2 linked regions of the Homo sapiens genome follow. The protein of the gene in region 2 interacts with the protein of the main gene of each other region in a pairwise test. Each region holds a gene or a part of one and is shown on either strand. Other genes may lie near its edges.

The links. Proteins that work in one complex are often made in the same cells at the same time.
Region 1: the proteins of SOX8 (region 2) and JAM2 interact in a two-hybrid assay, tested with the Homo sapiens proteins (one large-scale study listed by BioGRID and IntAct).

The regions. Positions count from the first base shown.
Region 1 is NC_000021.9:25,642,258-25,645,757, reverse strand, and holds part of JAM2 (junctional adhesion molecule B isoform 1 precursor), read right to left. Parts: intron 2,911-3,500; exon of another isoform or gene 1-2,910. UniProt on the Homo sapiens protein: Junctional adhesion protein that mediates heterotypic cell-cell interactions with its cognate receptor JAM3 to regulate different cellular processes. Plays a role in homing and mobilization of hematopoietic stem and progenitor cells within the bone marrow.
Region 2 is NC_000016.10:980,391-984,569, reverse strand, and holds the start of SOX8 (transcription factor SOX-8), read right to left. Parts: upstream 2,801-4,179; 5' UTR 2,648-2,800; coding exon 2,226-2,647; intron 843-2,225; coding exon 610-842; intron 1-609. UniProt on the Homo sapiens protein: Transcription factor that may play a role in central nervous system, limb and facial development. May be involved in male sex determination. Binds the consensus motif 5'-[AT][AT]CAA[AT]G-3'.

The DNA of each region.
Region 1 (3,500 bases), on a different chromosome or scaffold from region 2:
CAGCAGGCTCTACCATCTAGGTTTCTGTAAGTACACTCTATGATCACACAATAACAAAATCACCTAACGACACATTTCTCAGAACACATCGCATCATTAGGTGACAACTGTAAAAAGCAATTGTCAGTGGTTATATGTGTATGTGTAATTATGTGAGTATATTTATCAATAAACTATATAAAATAAGTACTTACACAAGCAATTGCCTGGACTACTCCAATAACTTCTAACTGGTCTCCCCAGTTTGACTCCCCCCACCCCAATCCTTCCATTCACCATACTCCATCCAATGCATTCTCTTTAAAATGCAAATCAAACTGATATTCAATGTCAAAAGGCTTCAATGGCTTCTTCAGTTTACTAAGTGTGTTATACATGTAATTCTCCCTAAACCTCTATGAGGTAAGCACTCTTATTGGGATTATCACCAACACTGATGAGTAAACTGACATAATACAGGTGTTAACCTGTATAAGATCACACAGCTGGTAAGAGCACAGAGTGCTGCATTGGAGTGCATGTTCTTTACCACCATACTATGCAATTTGAAATACAACTAATAAAAAATATAGCTTTAGGCCAGGCGCGGTGGCTCACGCCTGTAATCCCAGCACTTTGGGAAGCCAAGGCAGGCAGATCATCTGAGGTCAGGAGATCAAGACCAGCCTGGCCAACATGACGAAACCCAGTCTCTACTAAAAATACAAAAGTTAGGTGGGCGTGGTGGTGGGAGCCTATAATCCCAGCTACTCAGGAGGCTGAGGCAGGAGAATTGCTTGAAACCAGGAGGTGGAGGTTGTGGTGAGCTGAGATTGCGCCACTGCATTCCAGCTTGGGTGACAGAGCAAGATTCCATCTCAAATAAAACAAACAAACAAACAAACAAACAAAACCAAAAAACCAACCAGCTTTATATCACTATGAGTTATACTTTAAAGGTAAAAGTTATGGTGGCTTCATGGAATCTAGAATATTCTTGGCTACAGCACTGAAAACACTGTCGCTGTGCATAACCTCATTTTGGCTGCTGTGAGAAACAGAATAATAGCCCCACAAAGATGTCCACATCCTACTCCCCAGAACCTATAAATATCTTACTTTACATGGTAAATAGGAATTGCAGTTGTAGATGGATGAAAGTTGCTAACCAGCTGACTTTGAAATGGATAAATTATCCAGAGTTACTCAGGTAAGCCCAAGGTAATGACAAGGGTCCTGATGAGTGGAAGAAGGAAGCAGAAGAGAGAGAACAAGAGAGGTGGCAGCCTGGTGTCGCAGGGCCGTGAGTGGGGACAGGTGGCAGCCTGGCAGGACAGGGCCGTGAGTGGGGCGCCTCCAGAAGCTGGAAAAGCCATGGAAACAGATTCTGCCCTAGAACCTCCAGAAGGAATGCTTCATGCTGATACCTTGATTTTAGGCCAGTGAGACCTGTTTCAGACTTCTGACCTCTAGAAGTTTAAGACAATCAATTTGTATTGTTTTGTTTTTGGTCATGTGTTTCACAGAAATAGAAAAGTAATACAGTTGGGTTATTTTTTCTGAGTTCTAGCCTTGTTAACAGTAACACCGTCCAAGAAAACAATCCCTGGTTTTAAGTTTTATTTTGCTGCTTTTGCCAAAGGAGGCACCTGACCCAGGTTCTGATTCCCCTTTTCCATCTTCACCACCATCTTCCTCAAAACATCAGTCTAGCAAGAGGGGTATACTGGAGTATTGACTCAGCAGTGTTACTACTATATTGCTATGGGATGAAAAAATATTATTTTAAGAATGGCCTTTATAGCTTCCTGGTGGTCTGACTTCAATAAAGCTAGCAGCTCTTACCTCTATATTCCAATACATCTTCTCTATGAGGAAGGCCCACAGGAGGAAACCAATGCAATGGAAACCATGGGTGGTGAACATCCGTAAGCTCCTGTGGGCTCCTCTCATTAAACTGCTCATGTGGGAGGATAAATGAGTGTTTTCAGTCATAGGGAACTCACTGTGCTCAGGCTGAAGTTTTTGTTTTTGACTTCATTCTTTCTAATATAATTTCTTTCATAGTCTTGAAATGGTTGTTAAATCCACCTACAAGCCCATTTTAGCGTTTCTGTTCATCAGATAATTGAGACTGTGCCAGCACGGAACCACTTCTCTCCAGCAAATTGATTATGGCAGTTGCTTCTTAACAATAGATACAGAGGGCAGAATTTTCCTAGTACCGGTTCCCTGGAGTGCTGTTTTGGGTCAGTTCTGGCAAAAAGGCAGAACCTTGTGATTTTACAAAAGATTCAGACCTCTCTCCCCTACCACAATCTTTATCAGTTGATGAGAGATTAGACTCAGGCTAAGCGCCTGGATCAGGTTCCAGTCCAGATCTGAGGACCAGCTGCTACTGGTTAGGTGGAATCAGGAACTGATTCATGATCAGCTCCTTGGCTCTGAGAGACCCCAAAAGGCATGACAACACCCCACCAAACACGGAATACTCATTCCTATTATTTTTTGACATATCAGCTTAAATGATGCCTCAGAGAAATCTAACACTCCACCTACTTAACATGAAGTTAGAGCTTCATGATTTATATTGCAATCAGTTCAATCTATACACTTCTTTTACCTACCCTACCTCATCCCCATTCCATCTGCTGTGGTTTATGTCCCCCCACATTCATATGTTGAAATCTAATCACCAATGTGATGGTATTAGGAGTTGAAGGCTTTGGACCGTGATCTGGTCATGACAACAGTGCGCTTACAAAGAGACCTCAGAGCTGCCTTGCTTCTTCCGCCATGGGAGGTCACCCTGAGAAGGCTCCATCTATGAACCAGGAAGTGGGCCCTTGCCTGACACTGAATTTGCTGGTATCTTGATTGTGAACTTCTCAGCCTCCAGAGCTGTGAGAAATAAACGTTGTTTATAAGCTACTCCGTTTATGGTATTTTGTTACAGCAGCCTGAATGGACTAAGGCACCATAGAATCAACAGGCATATATTTATACCTACTATTAACCAGGAACTTTGCTCAGCACTGGACATATAGTGGTGAGCAAACATCAAGAAATTCCTTTCCTAATGGAGTGGGAAAGAAAAATGTAATTCAACTAAACACACACAAAAATATCCATATATCAACAGGGATACTGACATCATCGTTTAAATAACAAGAACAACAACAAAAAAGCAATCCTCCAGACTACTAAGAAAGATATAAAGAATGCTGATAAACAGCAGGATAAAAAGGAAAGAAGGGAGTAAGCATGATATTATAAATGATAGGAGTGGCCAAAAGAATGGCACAGTTACATCTGGGAAGAATATTAAAAAGATGAATATGTAATAACAGCATAAGAAATCCACTAAGTCTTTAATAAATAAAATAGTATTGGATTATAACCCAAAGTATAAAACAAATATTTATGAGCCCATACTGATAGAAAAATAAATGATTAAATAAATAAATGAAGGGAAGGGAGAGACCCATCTCCCATGCAGAAGAGCTCCAAATAATTTATGA
Region 2 (4,179 bases):
TCCCAGAAATTCCAGCAAAGTCAGACCTAGACCTCACTCCTCGGCCGAGAAAATTCCATGAAGCGCTGTGCTATGAGAAGACCCGAGGCCCCTCCCAGAGACCAAGGTGGGGGGAAGAAGCCGACAGGCCCAGCCTGGCCAGAGCTGGGGTTTACAGGGCGCTGGGGGACCACACAGACCCTGTTCCTCCCCGGGCCAGCCAAGCACTCTGAGGCTGGCGGGCGTCAGCCAGCCTGACCGAGGCCCCGGCAGGACTCCACCCTGTCAGTCTGGCCCTGAAGCTGGGGCTGCTGAGTGCCGTGTGGGCAGCAGCTCGGTGTGGGAAGAGGAGCCCGCATTGGACTGAGTCTTGCTGAAAACACCACCTCTCGGGGTCCCTGCCAAGCAAAGCTGTCAGCCCCTCAGCACTCAAGGTGGCTAAGCAGGTCCCTCGTGCACCAAAAACAGGGGCGGCCGGGGCCTTGGGAGCTTTTTCAGGGAACCCGGGGAAGGCCCGGTTCTCTCGAGGGCGCCTGCCCCCCTCCACCATCATGCACCCTTCTCAGCCAGAAACCCCACAGCTGCCTCCCATACAGGGACCCTCAGATATGCGGGGGGCCTGGAGCCCACCTGTGTGGTCGCCATGGTGGTGCCCATCTCCAAGCCCTGCTTCAGCCTTGTACACGGCACCGCCGCCAGGGTGGGGTCCCAGCTCCGCGCCCGAGTCGGAGTCGCTGTGGCCGGCTTTGGCGCTCTTCCTGCGCCGTGGCTGGTACTTGTAGTCGGGGTGGTCCTTCTTGTGCTGCACGCGAAGGCGCTCTGCCTCCTCCACGAAGGGCCGCTTCTCGCTCTCGCTCAGCAAGCTGCAGCACAGGGCAGAGGCAGGGATGGCCAGGGCGCCCACTGTGCCCTCGGCGCAGGCACACACCACAGGGGGAACCGGCAGCAGAGGCCGGGGCCAGGAGGCTCTGACCAGGGAAACCCGCCTGCCGTGCGCTCCGGAGCCTCCCGTGGCACCAGGCAGTACACTCCTCTGGGAGAACCGGCCGGCGCCTGTTTGGGAAGGTTGGTATGCTTACGACAGCCAAAGAAGAACAAGCCCCACGCCTCCCATCTTCCTCCTTCTATTTCCCCCTATTCCGGGCCTGCTGTTCCCTCCCTCTGGGGCTTTCTAAGGGAGGCGGGGGAGGCGGGCAGGACCCAGCCGGCGGTGGACAAAAGCGAGGCTTCCCGGGAACGGTGCCGGCCTTCGGCGGGCAGCTGGGCTGCTGTCCCTCCATTCCCAGACACCCAGAAGCCCTGGCAGGGCCCAGGCGCCCGTCCTCACTGAGCCACAGGACACACTCCTTGGGACTCTTCCCGAGGCTCACCTCCAACCGCCTGTGCGGCAGGACTTGGGGGAGCAGGGGCCTGCCGTCCACAGCGCCCCGTGGCTGCGCCCTAGATCCAGACAGAAGGCAGGAGGTGCAAATACGCAAGCTCCAAGCTCCCTTCTTCCAGGTGAGGAGCAGGATACGGGAACCAGAGCCCCAAACCAAGAGAACCATTTGAAACCCAACCAGAGGACACTCGGTGGGGGCGGCCTGTCCTGAGCAACAAGTTCTTCACTCTGCAGTCCTAATTTCTGGAAAACTGACCGGCCCCACCACGCCAAGGCGTGCACACGGCGCACCCCGTCATCTCCACTCCTGCCCTCCCTGCTTCGGACCGAGGGTGTCCAGGAGAGGGAGAAACTGCGGGGAGGGTACTCGCAGGCAAACCTGCTGCCCACCCATCCGCCTGCCGCACTCCCTCCCCATGGGTGGTCCAGGAGCTAGAGGAGCTGAGCCCTTTCTAAGGAGGGAGCACCTCCAGAGAGCCGCATGCAACTTGCTGTCGTGCCGGGCGTGCCTCCCGGGGCTGGGGCCACTCGCAACGGCTGGAGGGCACGTCGGGGTGCCAGCCATGGCCCTCCGCAGGGTGTTCCCCGCCAGGAGAACTGGCTCCAGAGCGCACCCGCCACGAGGGTGCACACCCCAGGCGCTGCCCTCCGCGGATCCCGACTCCCATAGCTGGCGCCGGACCCCGGCTGGCCAGAGGATGTTTTTCCACTGGGACCCGCCCTGACACCCGCCCGGGGTGCAGAGCCCGGAGCCTGCGTGTGGCCACCACCTCCGCGAGCTCTGCGCCCTCCAGGCCCCCGCTCGCAGTCCGAGACCAGGGGCGGCCAAGGTCCCGAACCCCGCCCCCGGGGCGCCGGCACTCACCGCCACAGCTTGCCCAGCGTCTTGCTGAGCTCGGCGTTGTGCAGGTGCGGGTACTGGTCGGCCAGCTTGCGGCGCGCCGCCTGCGCCCACACCATGAATGCGTTCATGGGCCGCTTCACATGCGGCTTGGCTTTGAGCGCGCCGCCGCCGCCGCCGCGCACCGGCATGGGCACCAGACTCCAGTCGTAGCCCTTGAGCACCTGCGACACGGCGTCGCGGATGCAGGCCGGGAAGCGCTCGTCCGCCGCCTCCGCCGGGTCGCCCCGGGCGCCCCCCACCGCGACCCCCGCGCGGCCCAGGCCCTCGGAGCCGGCGGGAGACGGCGGCGCGTCCGAGTCCGAGTCCTCCACGTGCGACATGGAGCTGGCGGTGCCGGACGGGCTGCAGGGCGGCTGGGAGCGGGCCTCGCTCATGTCCAGCATCGGGGCCGCGCGCGGAGGGGCGCGCACAGGAGACGCGCACCGGGGCCGGCGCCCGGGGCTGCCCTGCGGTCGCTCCGGGACCCGAGGTCGCCGCGCGGTGGCCCCGACCCTCGCCCCTGCCGCCGCCGCCGCCGCCGCCGAGGCTCGGGTCCCGCTGCGGGACCCGCAACAAGTTTCTTTAAGCGGCGGCCCCGCGGCCCCGCCCCGCGCCCGGCTACCCATTGGCGGAGCGCGCCCCGATCCCCCGGAGGCGGAGCCCGGCCGCCCCCGCCCCCCCACCCATAAAGAAAGCTCCGCGGCTCTCGCCGCGCCCCCGCCTGCCCCGCCCGGCGCCGCACCACGTGGGCCAGGCGCCCCACGCCTGGAGCTCCCCTCTCTGGAGCCCCGGGAAAGGAAGCGGGGCAGGGAGGCCGGGTGGGAGCAGGGGGGTCTCCGGCGCTTCCTCTCCTCTGCGGGCGCCGCGCGGCTCCTGAGAGTCCGCCCCCCGTCCTGACGCTCAGCTAGGAAGCGGGTCCTCGGGCCCCTCCCCCGACACACACACACACACACACACACACACACACACACACACACACTCTCTCTCTCTCTCTCTCTCTCTCTCTCTCTCTCTCTCTCTCTCACACACACACACACACACACAGCCCGTCTCGCGCCTGAGGTCTCGCCCGCAGGCCGGTGGCGCGGGGTCAGCTGCTGCCTGCGGTCCAGGACAGGGTCGGTTCCGCCGCGCAGCGCCCAGGCCCAGCTCGTCCAGAGTCTGCGGACAGCGCACGTCCAGGTAACGCGCTTCAAGGGGCCGCGGCTCGGAGCTGGGGGACCCCGGGCCGCCCTGCCCATACGAGTGCGAGCGTGGAGAGCGCGGGCGGGGGCGCGGTCCCGGGGGCCGGCCAGCTGGAGGGGGCGGGAGCGCTGGGCGGGGCCTGCGCTGACCCCGGCGCTGAGTCCCTGGGGCCGCCGGGCGGATGGCGTGGCCGGACGCGGGGGCCCCGGGCCTTCCGGGCGTGACCTAGGGCTCGGGGGCGGGGAGGCCCCTCCGGCGGGGCGGCCCTGGGTGGTCCGGCAGAGGCGGAGGCCGCTCCGAGCCTGTGAGCCCTGGGCGCCTGCGGAGGCGGGGAGAGGGCGGGGTGTGCCGCCCTGGTGGGGACCGCGGGGTCGGAGAGGGGACATTGCCCCCCCCGAGGCGAACGTCCAACCGCGGGTCCGGGTCCCCGCCCAAGGCCGCCCCGCGAGGTGGCCTCGGCCCGGCCGTCCCCGAGGGTGGCTCGGATCCTTTCAACCAGCGCGCTGGAGGCGAAGGGGCTGCGCCATTCCGGGTCAGGCAGCCAACGCGGGACACGCGCGTCTCCGAGCTTGCGGCCCGCGAAACCCGGGTGACCTACCGCGCCGGTGCCCTCAAAGCCCCCACGCCCGGGCCGGTGGCCGCTGCAGCCACTGAGCCACGCGGTCTCCCCGGCCCGGTCGGCAGAAGGAGCTGGTCCGTTACTAGAAAAGTCCAGATGCAAAGTCGGGGGTCGTGCTGCCGCTTCCTGCCA